2 linked regions of the Homo sapiens genome follow. The protein of the gene in region 2 purifies or fractionates together with the protein of the main gene of each other region. This does not show direct contact. Each region holds a gene or a part of one and is shown on either strand. Other genes may lie near its edges. The genes, in order: TRIO and MYO10.

The links.
Region 1: the proteins of MYO10 (region 2) and TRIO purify together in Homo sapiens (affinity purification with mass spectrometry; 2 studies listed by BioGRID and IntAct, with this or other methods). This does not show direct contact.

What each region holds. Positions count from the first base shown.
Region 1 is NC_000005.10:14,482,342-14,489,341, reverse strand, and holds part of TRIO (triple functional domain protein), read right to left. Parts: intron 6,761-7,000; coding exon 6,569-6,760; intron 4,274-6,568; coding exon 4,096-4,273; intron 1,879-4,095; coding exon 1,082-1,878; intron 1-1,081. UniProt on the Homo sapiens protein: Guanine nucleotide exchange factor (GEF) for RHOA and RAC1 GTPases. Involved in coordinating actin remodeling, which is necessary for cell migration and growth. Plays a key role in the regulation of neurite outgrowth and lamellipodia formation.
Region 2 is NC_000005.10:16,931,828-16,942,041, forward strand, and holds the start of MYO10 (unconventional myosin-X), read right to left. Parts: upstream 4,462-10,214; 5' UTR 3,982-4,461; coding exon 3,961-3,981; intron 1-3,960. UniProt on the Homo sapiens protein: Myosins are actin-based motor molecules with ATPase activity. Unconventional myosins serve in intracellular movements. MYO10 binds to actin filaments and actin bundles and functions as a plus end-directed motor.

The sequences.
Region 1 (7,000 bases), 2.5 Mb from region 2:
CCACTTCAACTGTAAATAAATGTATCAAGACCCATTTGTTAATTTCTTCCCCAATTAAAGTTTAACAAAATACATAACAAAAAATAGTAGGAAAGGATAAGACCAAGTCAAACCAATTAAGGCATTAATAAGTCCAGAGGAAAGAGAAAGACATGCAAAAGCTAGATTTTTTTTTTAATATAAAGAGAGACACAGACCCTTTTAGAGAAATGTATTTAAAAATTTATAAAGCGTTCAAACATACACTCATTAGAACAGTTCTATTCACTCACGCATGCCTTCAGGAAAGTGTTACGGGCCAGGCCATCTGCCCTGTAGGAAACAGGTGGGTAGGACAGTGAGGAAGCAGGAAACAGAGGGAAAACCCACCACAGCAACCCTTGTGCTTGAGACGGCAGCATGAGTGATGGGCCAAACGAGGCCAGAGCCCAGCAGGCCGCAGGGACCGGCCCCAGCCTGCACTGCAGAGCCGCCTCGCCAGGTGCCCAGAGCAGTCTCTGTCTTCCAGAGCAACACGGTGACGTAAAGCGTTCCCAGTGGACAGATTCTTTCCCCCCATTTTTTCATCTTAGTTTGCTTTGAGTTGCTGTTGGAAGTTTTCTTGAGGGAATGGTCTTCCCCAGCAGATGAGTCAAAAATGCCGCAAAGATAATTTAAGGCATAAAAGAGCAAAACCAAGCGATGAGCAAAAAGCTTAAAGTGTACAGGTTTCAATTTAAACAGGAGGTAGAGAGCAGGGAAAAGGAACCCTCCAAAAAATAGGTGCGTGAGGAAGGCAGAGGTTAAAAAAGAAAGTTCCAAGAAGATATTCTGCTGGTTGGAAATGGAAGAAACCAAAAGACGCTGCGTTGAGAAGGTTAATGATCGGCTTGCTCTTATTAGAAGACACGAACAAAGCAAGGAGTAGTTAGTAGCGCCGTGGGCCGGCCCGCAGGAGGGTTAGCCTGGTCCCAGGTAGAGGCCGCAACGGGCGGCGGAGAGCGCTGGGCAGCCGAGTTAGTGAGAACAGCCGCGGTGGCGTTTAGAGCTGGCGGGACAGAGGCAGGGGGGCGGGAGGGCGCGGGCCCCCCGACGCGCTTACCCCGTTGCTCTGGGTGGACTGCACGGACTGCTCGCTGGCCGAGGAGCACGTGCTCATGCGGTCAGTATCCTTGCCAGGGGCCGCGTGGCGGGGTGTCTGCCGCTGGAGGGAGTCGCTGTCCCCCGGGAAGGTGAAGGAGCCGGGTCGGCTGGCGGGGGAGGCGGGGATGGAGCTCCAGAAGGAGCCCCCCTTCTGCAGGGGGCTGCTGGGGGGGAAGGGCTCCTTGCCGAGAGAAGGGACCGCGCTGGAGAGCGGCGAGTTCAGCGGCGAAGCGGCCCCGGCCCGGGGCTTCCCAAGCGGCAGGGTGCCCAGGCTAGCGCGCGCGTCCTTGGCGGGGGCGTCTGGGCTCGACCCCGAGGCGTTCGCGGCGCCTTTCCTGGGGCTCTCCAGCACCTTCATCTTGGGGATCGGCTCCGCTTCTCGCTCGGACCCCTCGGCGTCCGCGCCGGGGGGCCGCCTGCTGGGCGCGCTGGGGCCGGCCTCGGGGGCCGCGCCAGGGGGAGGCAGGGAGGGCCCGGGGGTGGACGTACCTGACATCTTGTCTGCCTCTGCCTGGCTCGAGGCTGCAGAGGAGACCAGCACGGGGGGGTGGTGTCGGACAGGCTGGGGGATCCGGGAGGGCCGGCTCCTGCTCGTGCTGGGGGCGCCGCCGCAGCTGCTGGGGCCGCCACTGTGGCCGCTGCCGCCACTGGGGGCCCCGCCGCCGCCGCTGCCCCCACCCCCGCCGCTGCCCCCGCTGCCGCCGCCGCCGCCGCCCCCGCTGTGGTTCCTCTGGTACTCGATTGGCGATGTCAAGGCTGTAAGACAAGACAGCGGGAGAGACTGGGTCAGGGCGCCAAGGAGCACGCCGCGGGGTGAGGGAGGAACAGGGCCCACCCTGGGATGGGTCATGGGGCAGACCCCGTGCAGGGGCGCAGAGCAACCCCACCCATCAGGAGAGCTAGAAGAGGCCCCTGCTTGCCAAGGTATTGGGATGCCGGCTGAGTGCAGCGGGTGGAAGGGGCCGCATTCCTCAGCACATCCCGGACTAAGGGCCAGTGTCCACAGGAAGACCAAGGCAACAGATTTGACTAGAACTCCTCCAGCTACCAACTGGCTTCCGCAAAGGTCTTTCCTAAACCAGAGTCCTGGGGTGAAAAAGAAACCCTGGGGCTGCCGTGGAGGCGGTTTCATAGACCACCTCTGCTCTGCAGGCTGAACACAGCCCTGAGGGAAGCTAAGGAGCTACTAGAGGCCCCTGGAGCGGGAGGCTGTCCCATCTCTTGACTTGGGTGCCTGAGTTTTCTTACATCTTCATTGTAGAAAAACACAGAAATCAGGCCAAAATAACATGTATGGAAACATGCACAAACTCTTGAAGTGTTAAAGCCTTTGAAAAATACGACAAGCAGATGCAGCCCCCCAGCCCCAGCCCCAGGCATGTGTGAGCAAGCGTTGAGGAGCCAGAGGCAGTCTACAAACTCTGTGCTGGCCACAGCCTCTTCCAGGACTAAGGGGTGTGCAAGAAGCAGGTGAAAGGGTCCCAAGCTCCCAGCCCATGAGCGATCTCCTTTAATCCTCTGGGATAGGTATTACTAGTTACTCAACTGAGTGGGTGTCAAGTAAACTCTGACATCACAGACCATGCGTGCAATCTGGGGGCAGTTCATTCTATTTTAAAGACAATGATGAAAATTTAGAGCATTCTCAATTCCAAGCTATGGATTGGAACTCAATGCACCACATAAGAACACCACATTGAACCTCTTCGCACCTGAGGAACTGTGCCTCCCTATCCTCAAGCGCCCACCCCTAGCTGCAGATGTAAATGATTATCAGCTTGCAAGCAGGATGGAAACTTGGAGTTAACACCCAGGCAGCACATAACACTTGGCTAAAAATGCCATGAGGCTTGAGATTTTTCACTGAGTGCCTATGTTCCTGGCTCTTGAACATCACGCAAGGTGTAGAGGTGGCTTTCTTGTGACAGAGAACATTACAACATCCTATTGAGCTTGAGCAGGCATAGATGCAGACCGTGAATACGAACATGAAGCAAAGAACCCAGAAGACACAGATGACATGGGCACATAGCTTCGGACTGAATTCTCAAAGTTCTTTGCTGATCACCAAATTAAAAGCCAGTGTTGAAGCCAACATTTGCAAAGAGATCAAATACATTAAGAGGCAATGGAAGGGTAGTGTGGCCACGCCCGCTGTGTTCTGCAGCATCTCTGCAATCCCTCAAGTCACGGAAGCAGGGAAGTACTGAACCGTCTCTTTTTTTTTTTTTGAGACAGAGTTTCACTCTTGTTGCCCAGGCTGTAGTGCAATGGTGCGATCTCAGCTCACCACGATCTCCGCCTCCTGGGTTCAAGTGATTCTCCTGCCTCAGCCTCCTGAGTAGCTGGGATTACAGGCATGCGCCACCACGCCCGGCTAATTTTTTTGTATTTTTAGTAGAGACAGGGTTTCTCCATGTTGGTCAGGCTGGTCTCAAACTCCTGACCTCAGGTGATCTGCCCAACTTGGCCTCCCAAAGTGCTGGGATTATAGGCTTGAGCCACCATGCTTGGCCCCATCTCTTATTTTTTTAATGGGGAAAGGAGGTGTGGGTGTGCAAGGCCCTCGTGAATGTCTCTGGCCAATGCCATCTCGTGTTCTCGCAAACTCCTCTTCCTAGGACTGGGCCCTCGTACATGTTATGTGTGGGACAGTGTAGCTGCGAGGGGCACAGACCAAGAGCCAGATGGCCACTCTGTGTCCTGACTCTGCCCTCAACAACTTGTGGGACTCGAAGCAAATTACTCAGCCGCTCAGTGCCCCAGCTTTCTCATCTGTAAAGCAGGAATAATAATAGTACTGGCCACACAGGGTGGTTGTGAAGATGAAATAAAGCAATATCTAGGCAGTGCCTGAAGAGTGGTGAGTGCTAAGTTCTGTCATTACTATGGATATGAATGGGAGAGGGAAGATAAATACAAGTGAGTACACGAGGAAAGAAAGCACACATCTAGTAACAGAACACACATTACCATTTAAAAAATTGCGCTGGTTTTCTAAAATTTGGTTGATTTCATGGATCCAAGTTTGCCGGACACTTGGACTAGATGAATGCAAAATGAAGGTCTCTACCACGTCACCCGTCCTCGATGTCAGAGCAAATTTACAGGGATCATTTTCCACATTTTCCTCCAGGCAAAGGCAACTCACCTTAAAAAAAAAAAAACATTATTCATAATAGCTAACAGGTGGAAAGGAAGCAAACCATGTGTCCACTGACCGATGAATGGACAAAGAAAATGTGGGCTATGTGGACAGTTTTTCAGCCTTAATGAGGAAAGAAATTCCGACACACAATACGACATGGATGAACCTTGAAGACGTTATGTTAAGTGAAATATGCCAGTCTCAAAATACAACTATTGTTATGATTCCACTTACAGGAAGTCCTTAGAGTAGTCAAATGTGGGGATAGGAAGTAGAGTGGAGGTTGCCAGGGGCTTGGGGGTGGGGAAGTGGGGAGTTACTGTTTAATGGGTACAGGGCTTTAGCTCTGCAAGATGAAGAGTTGTGAAGACAGATGATGGTGATGGCTGCAAAACATGAATGTTCTTAATCCCATGGAGCTAGGTAATTAAAGATGGAACATTTATGTTATGTGTATTTTACCACAACAAAAAATTAAAGCACATTGATCCCCACTGGCCAAGTGCAAAGTGAAGTTCATCCTAACTCAATCCTGAAACAAGCACTTTTCAGTTGAACTGCCATTTTTACTGCCTCAGAAAACATCTGAAGCTTTTTAATGCCTCTTAACTCAGGTACATGGGGAATACAAGGCTGTTAAACTAATAGTTTGAACTAACAGCCTGAACAATTAACTAGAAATATGCGTCTGGGATTACCTGTTTCCCAAACCCCTCTATGATGCCTCAGTATTTATCCTTACTTACTTCCCAGGGAGTAAATGACACCATTAAACAAATCTCAAATATCACTAAAACCTATGTTATAAAATTGTATGTGATATCATGATTAAAATATGTCAAATAATTTTATAAAAATATGTAAAAAATATATACGAAATTCCTACAGTGCTGGAGTGATTTTCTGCCAAAAGACTTGTGAGAAGAATGGGTAGGCAGTTCTCAGGGGATGGGTGCAGTGCAGGGGATGGATGAGTGCAGTGCCCGGGATGGATGAGTGCAGTTCTCAGGGGATAGGTGCAGTGCAGGGGATGGGTGGTTCTCAGGGGATGGGTGCAGTGCAGGGGATGGGTGTAGTTCAGATGATGGCTGCAGTCCAAGGGATGGGTGCGGCTCAGCGTATGGGTGCAGTTCAGCGTATGGGTGCACAGTTCAGGGCATGGGTGCACAGTTCAGATGATGGCTGCCGTCCAGGGGATGGGCGCACAGTTCAGGGGATGGGAGGCTCAAGTGTAGTGGTGAGCCCAGAGGGTCTGTGCCTGACATGGCCTCAGGGTGAGGGGCCTCAAAAGGCGGAGTCTGGAGGGGCAGGCGGGTGGTGGGAGGTGCGAGGGCCCGCAGCCCAGCCTCATGCAGAGGCGGCCTCCTTCTCCAGCTGTTTGGCTCCAGAGCCCTCCTAGGTGCTGGTGGGCAGAGGCCCCCAGCCTGGCACCTGTGCCCACGGACAGACCCACCCCAGGTTTAGGCAAATGGAGGCTGCTGGGGACAGCCAACAAAAGCCTGAACGGAGAGTCGGATGGGGGAGGACGCAATGTTCTGCCTGTGTGCTGTGAGGCCCGCAGGTGTGCACGGTCTGAGAGTTCCCTGTCCCTGATGGCGTAGGGCAGGAGGCCCTACCAAAGGGAAGTACATCTCCCTTCTGACCTCAGGGTCTGCACAGCTGCAGAGCCAGGAGGACCCTGGCGGGGGCATGTATCTCCCAGGAGTCATCTGCTGGGACCTCAGGCCTGCCCTCTGCTCTTCTCTACCTCACCCTTGGTTTGTCCCTTTTACAGACTTGAGGGCCATTGGCAATTATTTTCTTTGTCCCTCTGTCTTCCTTTCCTATTAGAGGATAAGCTACATCAGGGCAGGGAGGGCATCCAGCTGGGCCATTCCTGGAGCCCTCACGCCTGTTGCTGAGTGCTCAGTACCTCCTTGGTGAGTGGAGGAAGAGAAGAAGACACCGAGTGAACTTTTTCTCTGATCATAGAGCAATCCCCCAAATCCGTGCTATCAAATTTAAACCAGTTTTCCTCGGTCCTAGAGAAGGGGGTGCATAAACACTACCCATGACCAGTTCTCATCATGGTAAGAATGAATGGCTGTGGTTACACAGAGGTGTGTACAAGACATCAGCCACTCAAGAACACAGACAGTAAAAAGAGAAATGGGGTGAATTCAAGGCTCTGAAATATACTAGAAAATTCTCAAATACTTAAACGAAGCATCAGGGTATGTCATCATTAAAAGGAAACAGTGTATCGGTGTGACGGGTACATGCGCTGGCACAGAGAAATCACACAGAGACACACGTTACCTTGATACTGTTCTTAAACAGGAATCCCGGCATGGAGAAGCCCTTCTTTTTATCAAGTGGTTCGCTGAATATGACGATCTGCTCAAAGAGGAAGATGCGCCTCTCTCTGCAGCGAGGCAGAAGTCCTGCATCTTGGTCTGTGACCAAGAATGTGTCCTGCAAGAGCAGTTTACCCTGGGCAACGATTTTCCCCTAAAACAAGAAATAAAGGGGGAAAAGGAAGGGGAGAAGAAAACATTGCCTTCTAAGTTATCTGAAGCTGTTTTCTTTAGATTTCCTCCTATGGAATAATGTATTTTTCTTTTATTAATTTATGGAGTTTAATTTTTTTTTTCTTTTACTGTTCTTGGCTCTAAACAGAATAATTATCTAAATAAAATTCTTGCCAACATTTGTATAGACCTCTGGCGCCTCAATTACAGTCACAGATTA
Region 2 (10,214 bases):
ACATATCGAGGGTGAGGAGAGAAAGCTGCCAAAAATAACAATGTCCACATTTTTCTCTAACAAGAAAAGATGTCAATAGATCACAAACAAAAAAAATATACAACCAAATGGGGAGAAAATTGGCTTGGGAACTCTACTCACTTAAAAAGCTATTTGAACAACTCCAGATAACCAACCACAACCACAGTCCCTTGTCAAGTTAAGTAGAAGAGGTTGGTGTTTCCACTTAACGTCTTTAGAATGAAGTCTGCTCTAATCCAGAGTGAACCAGACTGGAAGAAACAGGTATGTCTGGAATATTTTCCACTAACAATTTATCCCTTAAACATTAATACCTGCTTTCTGTATTTGTATTTGTGAGTATCTTACTTGTGTACATTTTACATATTTATTCTGAAAATCAAGGTGTTTGATTAGTCTCACTAATAATCCTCCGAGATCTTGTATTTGAACAGACACATCACACCTCTGCCTAACAGGGAAACAGAAAGGTCAATTTCATTTGGTACTTACTGGCCCCTACTATATTCCAGGCACTGTACTTGGCCCTGAAGACATGAAAACAGTGTCCACTTCAGCACATCAACACAAGTTTGCACAGTAGCCTTGCCCCTTTCCTGGTTGAGCCTTTTCTGTTTGCTTTTTTTATTATTATTGCTTCTGGTTACAGACACATCTAAACTTAGTTTCTGGCTGAAGTAAACTTAACAACTTACTTAGAAATGCTGAAAAAACAAGCTTCCCCAAAGCATACACACAATTAACTCGAGGGGAGCCATAAAATTCTAATGAAGGCCATGAAGAAACTGAAACTGAGGAATGTGGCATGCTCAGTTTCTCTAATCCTGGAGAACATTTTGAAGTCAGCAGCTGTCAGCTGACTGGCACAAGCTTTGCAAGCTTCCCCCTGGCGCGCAGTAAGACACTATCTATCTAATTAATCAATCAATCTAGCAGGCAGTAAGAGTCTATCTATTTTGTGACACAGGGTCTGTTGCTCTGGAGCGCAGCGGTGCAATCATGGTTCACTGCAGCCTGGACCTCCTGGGCTCACCTCAGCCTCCAGAATGGCTGGAACTACAGGTGCATACCACCACACTCAGCTAAGTTTTGTAGAGATGAGGTTTCACCATGTTGCCCCGGCTGGTCTTGAACTCCTGGGCTCAAGCAGTCCTCCCACCTCAGCCTCCCAAAGTGCTGGGATTACAGGCTTGAGCCACCGCACCCGGCCAAATCCTATTTAAAACAGGGAAGCGCAGACAAGGCTGTGCCTGCAACACAAATAGGAATTAATACCGCCAAACAACTGCTTCACAGGTCTAGCTCAGTGGATCTCAACTGGGAGTGATTTTGCTCCCCTGTCATTCAGCAATGTCTGCAGACCTTTCGGGTTGTCACAACTTGGGGGATAGGGTTAACAATTACTGAGTAGAGTCCAGGGATGCGTTTAACCTCCTACAACACACAGGACGGCCTCCAACAACAAAGAATTACTCAGCAATGGTACCAGGTTTGAGAAACCCTGGTCTAGCTAGAAATAGCAGTTGCGAATCACAAGCAGCTCCCATTTCCTTATTATTTGGCCATTCATACACAAAGCTAAACAGGCAACATCTCATTCAGTAATTTTTCCCCAATTGTTAGCACTGGCTTTAAACTGTTGTCCAACAAGCAACAAGTCATTTACCCCTAAGCCACAATGGGAAAAGTTAGCAAAGACAGAATTCTACTTAGTGATAAGGAGGCCAAACAATTTAGCTGTCCTTGGGGAATATATCACTTCCACACTCGCTGTTTCTATTCTAACAGGACATTAATTACAGCATTTTCTTCACTGGACAATTTAACAAAAGGATGCTCCATTACAAGACATGAGAGAGAGAAAGGGGAGCTGGGATCTATGTTAAGAGTATGTCTACAATTAATACCTCACTATTTAACCTCTCTGACTGGCCCTGCTTCCTTCCCACTCAAAGTGATTAGATTTAAGGGTGGAACTTTCACGGCTGATTAGAAGTTAATATTGTAATACACATACATCACAAGATTAAAAGTATAACCTTAAAATAAGCGAAAAGTTCCCAGAAATACCAAAGTCACCAGCAGCAAAGGAAAAAGGCTCTGGATTCGTGAACAAGCTCTTCAAAGCTGGGCAAGGGACTTACTCATATCTTTGGGTTAAGATTCTGTCTACAAAATGAAGAGGAGAAAGTAGAAGATCACTAATGGCCAACTGCAAAATAATATTGATCACAGAAATAAAATCCAACAACCAGGCCCCTTACACTGAACTAAGGTATCCAGTGCAAGATGAAAAGAGTACTTTGAAAAGTCAAAGTCTCACCGGGTAACAGGAGATCAGGACGCTGTAGCGCGTTATCCTGATGTTCCCCCCACTTGCACTAGGGGGCAGAGTTCTCCCCAAGGGGGAGCCACGGACCCCTGTGGTGCTCAGACAGGCTACAGGAGGAGTGAGATCCGTGCAAACTGAATACAAATTTCTATATTTTCATCAGATTTTCTAAGGGACCCAGAACACAAAAACAACAAAGTTAAGAATCATTGCCCTAGGGGCAGGGCCTCCGTTTTCTTACAGATGCAAGCAATTAAACACCGGAACTCACTGTAGCCCGAGGGTCCTTTACCACTGGACAACGTGCAACTCTTGCAGAAAGTTCTGGTGCCTTTCGACAAGCATGAAAACAAAAGTCTATGGACTAGAAAATGCGAGCGTCTCACAATTATATATATTTCACTTTTTTTAAGAAAAGGAAAAATATGTATTGATGGATAATTCCTTTCTAGTCTTCCTTCCACAATGAATGTGGGTATCACATCTGAAACACCACTTTTAAAAACTAGATATGACTACTAAACAAGAATGCATTTATCACTTTGGCCAGTATGAATAGCTGTCTGAGAATACAGTCAGTGAGCATGCAGAAAGCAGAATGACTTGAAATATTATATCCAATTAAATCAGATAAACCAAGTCGGCTAACACAGAGGCAAGCCCTCATCAATCTGATTTGCTGGAAGACTCCAAAGCGGTTCTGCACTCAGAAAACATTCCCTGGCTTTCAACGAAAATCACATCAGACTCTCTCAAGTCAACTAAGTTTACTTTGAGCCACTTCAAACCTCAAACTTAAACAGAATTTATTAAATAAACACAACCAAGAAAGGAAAGGGAGCCAAGAAACCACAGTAAGTCTCGATCCCAAAGGGGGAAAAAGGGTTCTCAAGTTAAGTTTCAGTGTCCCACCCTCAACGACCCTAAAGAGGGCATCCGTTTCATCTATTAAAATAGCCACTGTTTGCCCTAAACGAATTTTCTTTACATTCGAATTCAAAATCTGCATGGACACTCTACACAAATACATGATCATTTGATCCCAGGGTCTGGAGTTATCCCAAGCCTTAAAAGAGCACTTCTCGGCGAGCAAAGTAACCGATTAAACCCTTGCCTCTCCTTCTCACACTTCATTAAGCCGTCTCCTCTGGAAGTGTTTGAACCCCTGCACAGGAAGCCCGCACGTTTTGCAAAGGAAATACCAGACAAGACCTTTCTTGGAGAAAGGCAGGTCCCCGCTGAACATTTTATTGGGCTTCCTGCACCCGGGCAGTCGAGCGGGCGGATCGCCCCGCCCGCGCCCCGGCGCGCGCCGCCTCACCTGGCGCGGGTGTCCCAGGGCGCCCCGAGAGCCAGCCACCCACGCAAACGGAAACGCACCTTCGCTACCTCCCGGAGCAAAATGCGAGCGCGGGACAGGACGAAACAAAACCTGCCCGGGCTTACTCATCAGAGACTCCGCGGGGGGATGGGGGGTGATTTCAGGAGACTCCCAGAAAGTTGCGCCTTCCAGGGCTTAGGAAAAAGTACCCAGGGCGCGCGGCGTGGTGGGCAGACGCCTCTCTCCCTGGGCTCCGGAGGCCAGGTCGGACTGGGAGCGCACTTACCTCGGTGAAGAAGTTATCCATTGTTCCAGCGCAGTCCCGGACTCGCCGAGTGCCGCTCCGACTCGCGGAAGTCAGCGCCGCCGCGGGTCCGGGGAAACCATGCGTGTCACGGCGCCACTCCCGAGGACGCGCGCCCGCGGGGCTCCCCTGCTGCCATCGCCCGGTCCCTTCTTGTCCTTCTCACCTTTTGTTCGCCCAAACCCAAGTCCCTAACTCGCCCGTCCCGACGGCAGCCTTTGTCTCTTCTTCCTCCAAGTTCCTCACTACTGGGCGCAGCGCTCGCAAGCGGAGAACAGCTGGTGGCACATTCTTCCCCCAGGCGGGGGAAGGCGGCGGGGTGCTGGCGAGCGCGGCCCCCTCCCTCTGCGCTCCGGCCGGGGGCCCTCGGGGCGGGCAGGAGGACAGCGGGCCGCAAAGTGAGCAGGAGCCGCGATCCCCGCGCGAGCGCTTGGAGGTGAGCAGTCCCGCGCCGCGGCTCAGCCAGCTCTCGCCCGCGGGACTACAGCCCAGCGACCTCGCCCCGCCCTCCCGCAGCCGGCCCCGCCCTCCCGCAGCCGGCCCCGCCCTCCCGCTCGCGGCCCCGCCCCCAGGAGCTTGGCCCTCCGCCAACCACACCGTCTGGCCCCGCCCGGGCGGAGCGCCCCGCCCCCTTCCCGACCAGGCCCCGCCCACTCTAAGCCCGAAGCAGCCGCAGGCTCGTTAGCGGACCCGGGAGGGGGCCGCGTGTTTCCCCAGGTCTTCCCACGTAGGCGTGGGGAGGGGATTTAACTCTTCCCTCTGCAGAGAGAGACTAAACAATCACTTAGAGGGGAGGAGAAGGGACTGGGGGCTTCTGTGCCTTTCATGTTTAGCAGACCCGGGAACCGGCTCAACACGGATCTCATTAATGCAGCCCGGTAGACTAGCAATCTCGGGAAGGAAGCGCGGTCAGCGGAGCTGCCGGGGCTGCGGGGCCAGATCAAAGCGGAAGACGGAGGCTAATCAGAATTTCTGGAAGCTGCATTCCCGTGTTGACTTTCTGTCCTGCAGTCGGGTTTGCTTAAGACGTTTGCGTAACAGCGGGGAAATGTAGTTTTGAAACTGGAAGGGGACGTGGCCAATATCACCTTTAAAAATGTAACCCTTTTCTAGACCTCAAGGAAGCAGAGATGGCAGATGGCACTGAGATGGACGAATGATCAAACCCACCTGGCACTGAGTCCCGTTTCCCCTAGGGCAGTTCTTTTAACTTTATGCTGTGCGAGGGTCACCTGGGAACCTTGTTAGAACGCAGGCTGGAACAATCTGCTTTCCAGGTGCCCCTCAGGTGCTACCTGGTCCTGTGCTGAACGAAAGCTTGTAACAAGTAGAGAAATTAAGAGTAAACGTTTGTAGCAATTTAATAATGCCACGACATCCAAGCACATGATCAGTGGACTCTTTGAACCGAGTATAAACCAGTTTGGGTGTTGTCAGACTCACGTGGTGAGTCACACCTGGCGCCGCAGTGTATTGGTACCTGGCCGACTGGGAACAAAAATGGCTGGTTCTTCAGCACAAAAGATTTGAGATGCTCTCTCCAGGGAATTTGCCAACTGCTACTCAACCTTTAAAACTCAGCTCACAAAGTCACACCTTCCAGGGGAAGGAACCCTTCCCAAAGATGCTACTCCACTCACCCCACCCAAGCTCCCCGTAACCACTGGGCTAGATGCCCACTCTAGGATTTATTCCTAAGACTGTTGGGGAAGGACTGTGCTTTAAGATGAGTATCCCCAGGCTGTCTCACAGCATGAATGAATGAATGAAACATCCTTCTGTAATCCTTATGGGGAAAGTCAAGCATGTTTGTAACTTATCCCAGTCCAGTTCTTCACCATTAATATCATTGCTCCCACCTCACTTCCCTTTAGAAAGAGTCAAGGTGTAAATTAGTTAATGATATTGTGCAATGTTGTTCTGTTTCACAGGTTTACACGCTTAAGGCGCTGAGCCATTAAAGCTTGTGTCCAAGGTCGCAAGGAAAGTGAAGATGGAGTCAGGATAAATACCAACAATCCCAGTGCTTAGTCAAATGGGTCCTGCAACCACTGGTGTTCAGATACTGGAGCAGAACAATTACAGTCATTATGGTATTAATCTGCACACAACATCTCTGCCAGAGAAATTACCAGGGAGATTGTTGAAGTGAGTGTGTGGGTGTGACGTGGTTCCCAGCATCAGCCCAGCCACTGATACGTTGGGCAACCTCGCCATGTCATTTCAAAAGTCACTTTCCATATCGGCTCATCAGTTATAACAAATGTACCACACTAATGCAACATGTTAATAATAGGGGCAAGTGAGGGTGAGGGGCTGGGAGGGGTCTATGGACACTCTCTGTACTTTCTGGCCAATTTTTATGTAAGCCTAAAACTGTTTTTTTAAAGTCTACTAATCTTTTAAAGGTGATTTTCCTGCCAATTATGAAGATATCGTTAATAATTGCCCCCAATTTGACTCACGTAAAGAATGGTGAGCCAGATCCAATATATAAAGTTTAGATTTTACTGAATCATTTTATTTCTTCAAAAAGCTTACATCATCAGTTAACAGGGTAAGAAAGTTAAAAAAAAAAACTTACATCAATGTTTTATCAATGTTGATCCCTAGATCACCTTATCAGTTGCTAAAAAGAAAAAAAAACTGACTCCAAATCTCTGTGGCAAATTGATTTCCTAAGAATTTGCATTTTTTATTTCTTTACCTGTGGATTATATTGAAAGAATTTGCATTTTAATAAGCACCCCGATAACCAGTTCAGAGCTTGGGAATCGCCACTTTATCAGAATTCATCAGCTTTTCTATATATCCCCATATTCTCAAAAAGGTGTAAGATAAGCTGTGGCAGCGAAACTCTTACTTGCTGAACAGCAAAATGCATGTTCTAAATAAGATATCTAACCCTCAAGTATCTGGGGTTGAATCAGTTGTTAAAAAGCAGCGTGTTAAATTTATAAGGGCTTTGACAGGATTGGACAGAGACTGGGAAGCATTTTAAATCAATAGATTTCTAAGAATATCTAGTCTTATTACCATTTCTTAAAATTTGAGTGCTTCCTCTGAGAGAGTTGTGCTAACCACTGGACAAAGCAGTTTAGACCAAATCTATTAAACCCTGCCCTCTGAGAAGCGACAGAGGCACAAGAATGGTAATAATAGAAGGATGAGTGTGTTTCCATGAGGCAAAGGTCTGTCTCAACTCTCTGTCCTACCTGTCTTTCAAATAAACCAGGCTAACAGAGTATGACATTTTCAAAATAAAACACCCCCAAAAGCTCAAGTTAAGTTATCTTATTTAGTGGCATACATTAATCTACAATCAACAAAATTTTAATACTGATTGGATCATTTCCCCACTGAAAGAGAGAGTTGCATATGTATATTTGTGAGTTAAGTAATAACAATCTTCTGTTTTTGTTCTCCACCAACAGTTTGTTCGTTTTTAGTTGAAACGGGTTGTCTCATTTCCTTTGTGAATTCAAACTGAGTTCCTTTTGTTGTTGCTGCTGCTGCCATTCCTTGTCTTGATGTGTCTTGGGGCGTAGAGTCTTTTCCATTATCTTTTTTTTTTATTAAACACTCACCCCTTAATTGCCCCTGTTAGAATAATGGCTTAATTACTAGTTATAGAAAGGGAAAGTTCTCAAAGTTTCTTTCACACAAATTAGAAGTTAATAACTGACAATTCTAAAGTCCTTTCATGCTTAACTAAACAGCAGTCCATCCTTTGGGCTCACTTACCCTCTTGGATGTTTAAAACATCAAATGTTTTTACCTTCTCAAACAAAAGGGAATTTTTTTAATGTGATTTAAATTTTTACACAAGTGTTTCTTTTATTTCTCATACCTTAGCATTCAGAAATCCTCAAGGGAATTTTTTTCTGCTGAAACTGAAAACAATTGTAGGTGGTTTCAATAGAATAAATTTGGGAGAAAATACCTGAAATGTTTCACATTGTAATAGAAGTAAGTACAGAAGAATAAACATAGAACTAAAATGGGGAGAAGACACTGGAAGAACTCATTTCTGCCAGCGGTTGTATTTCTCTACAAGATGAGCTAGGGCAAGGATGTCATTCACCTCATTAGAGAGCATGTGATGGACAGTTAATTCTAACTAAATCCCCATCACTTCAAACTACAGCAAGAATGCCTCCTACAGCTGATAGCCTACAAAAATCATGGAGTGTTAGTTTCACAAATTAATCAGTTTTCATGTTTGGGGCTGGTCCTGTTGCGTATAATAAAGAAAAAGTACAAAAATCCCTGAAACCCTGAAAAGCTGCCTAATGATTAAGCCCGCTCGGAGCTATGTTTGACATCTCGCTTTCTCTCTTGATGTTTTTGTGTCTTTATGACCCTCTCTCTTCCATTACTCCAGGGTGGCTCAGAGACTGACTGCAAAGTTTATCATCTCTCTACCATTATTGTTAATCACAACATGTTTGCCACTTCCAAACCTTGTGTCCTCACTTATTCCTCTTGCTTGCATCTTCAGCCTTTCCCACTCAGTATCCAAGCCAATAAACAAGATCGTGTCGGCTCTATTTGAAAACAGCTGCTCGTTAACCCAATTGCTCTCTGAACTACTGGACCATCTCTCTTCAAATGCCCAACTTCTCACTGCTGTACTTCATCCTCCAAGCAATCAACCCTTAAACCCCTCATGATCTGATTTTTGTCCCCCACCCCACTCTCTTGAAAGTCTCTGTAACCTCAAATCATCAAATTCAACAGCCTGTTTTCCAATTTCACTCTCCTTGACATTCCCCTCTTTAAAAATTCTTTAACTTCTTAGCTTCAGGGCAAGCTTCATAGGTGTGCAACCCATATAGTTAATTGTATAGAGCCCTAAGCTCCTCACGCTTGGTTTAATATTCTGTTGTTCCTATCTTAAAATTATTTTACGTATTTATGTACTTATTTTTTTTGTTAGGCATCAGATAACAGCAAATACAACTTTTTCTTAATAGGATGAATGAAGAACTAGTATTTGATAGCACAACAGGGTGACTACAGCAACAATAATTTATTGCATATTTTTAATTAATTAAAAGGGTGGAATTGTAATGTTCATAACACAAAGAAATGATAAATTCTTGAGGCGATGAATACCCTAATCACAATTACAAATAATGCAATTATTACACATTGTATGCCTGTATCCACACATTACATGTACCCCATAAATATATACACTATGTATTGATAATAATTAAAAATGAAAATAATTGCCGGGCGTGGTGGCTCACACCTGTAATCCCAGCACTTTGGGAGGCCGAGTCGGGCGGATCACGAGGTCAGGAGATCGAGACCATCCTGGCTAACCCAGTGAAACCCCATCTCTACTAAAAATACAAAAAATTAGCCAGGCGCCTGTTGTCCCAGCTACTGAGGAGGCTGGGAGTCTTGAGACAGAGTCTCGCTCTGTTGCCCAGGCTGGAGTGCAGTGGCGCGATCTCAGCTCACTGCAAGCTCCGCCTCCCGGGTTCACGCCATTCTCCTGCCTCAGCCTCTGGAGTAGCTGGGACTACAGGCCCCTGCCACCACACCCAGCTAATTTTTTTGTATTTTTTTAGTAGAGACGGGATTTCACCATGTTAGCCACGATGGTCTCCATCTTCTGACCTGGTGATCTGCCCGCCTCCGCCTCCCAAAGTGCTGGGATTACAGGCGTAAGCCACCGCGCCCAGCCAAAAATAATTTATTTTATTTTATTTTCTTGAGACCGAGTTTCACTCTTGTCGCCCAAGCTGGAGTGCAATGGCGTGATCTCCGCTCACTGCAACCTCGGCTTCCTAGGTTCAAGTGATTCTCCTGCCTCAGACTGCTGAGCAGCTGGGACTACAGGTGCCCGCCACCATGCCCAGCTAATTTTTTGAATTTTTAGTAGAGACAGGGTTTCACCATGTTAGCCAGGCTGGTCTCAAGCTCCTGACCTCAGGTAATCCACCCGCCTCGACCTCCCAGAGTGCTGGGATTACAGGCGTGAGCCACCGTGACTGGCCTGAAAAGTTTTCAACATATATATTTTTTAAATATAAACTGCTTCATGAATTTGTATGTCATCCTTGAACAGGGGCCATGCTAATCTTCTCTCTGTCTTGCTTTAATTTTAGTATTTGTGCTGCCGAAGTAAGCACAAAAGAATTTTCATTTTAGACAGAGGGTACAGTGGCACAATCATAGCTCACTGCAGCCTTGAACTCCTGGCCTCAAGAGATCCTCCCACC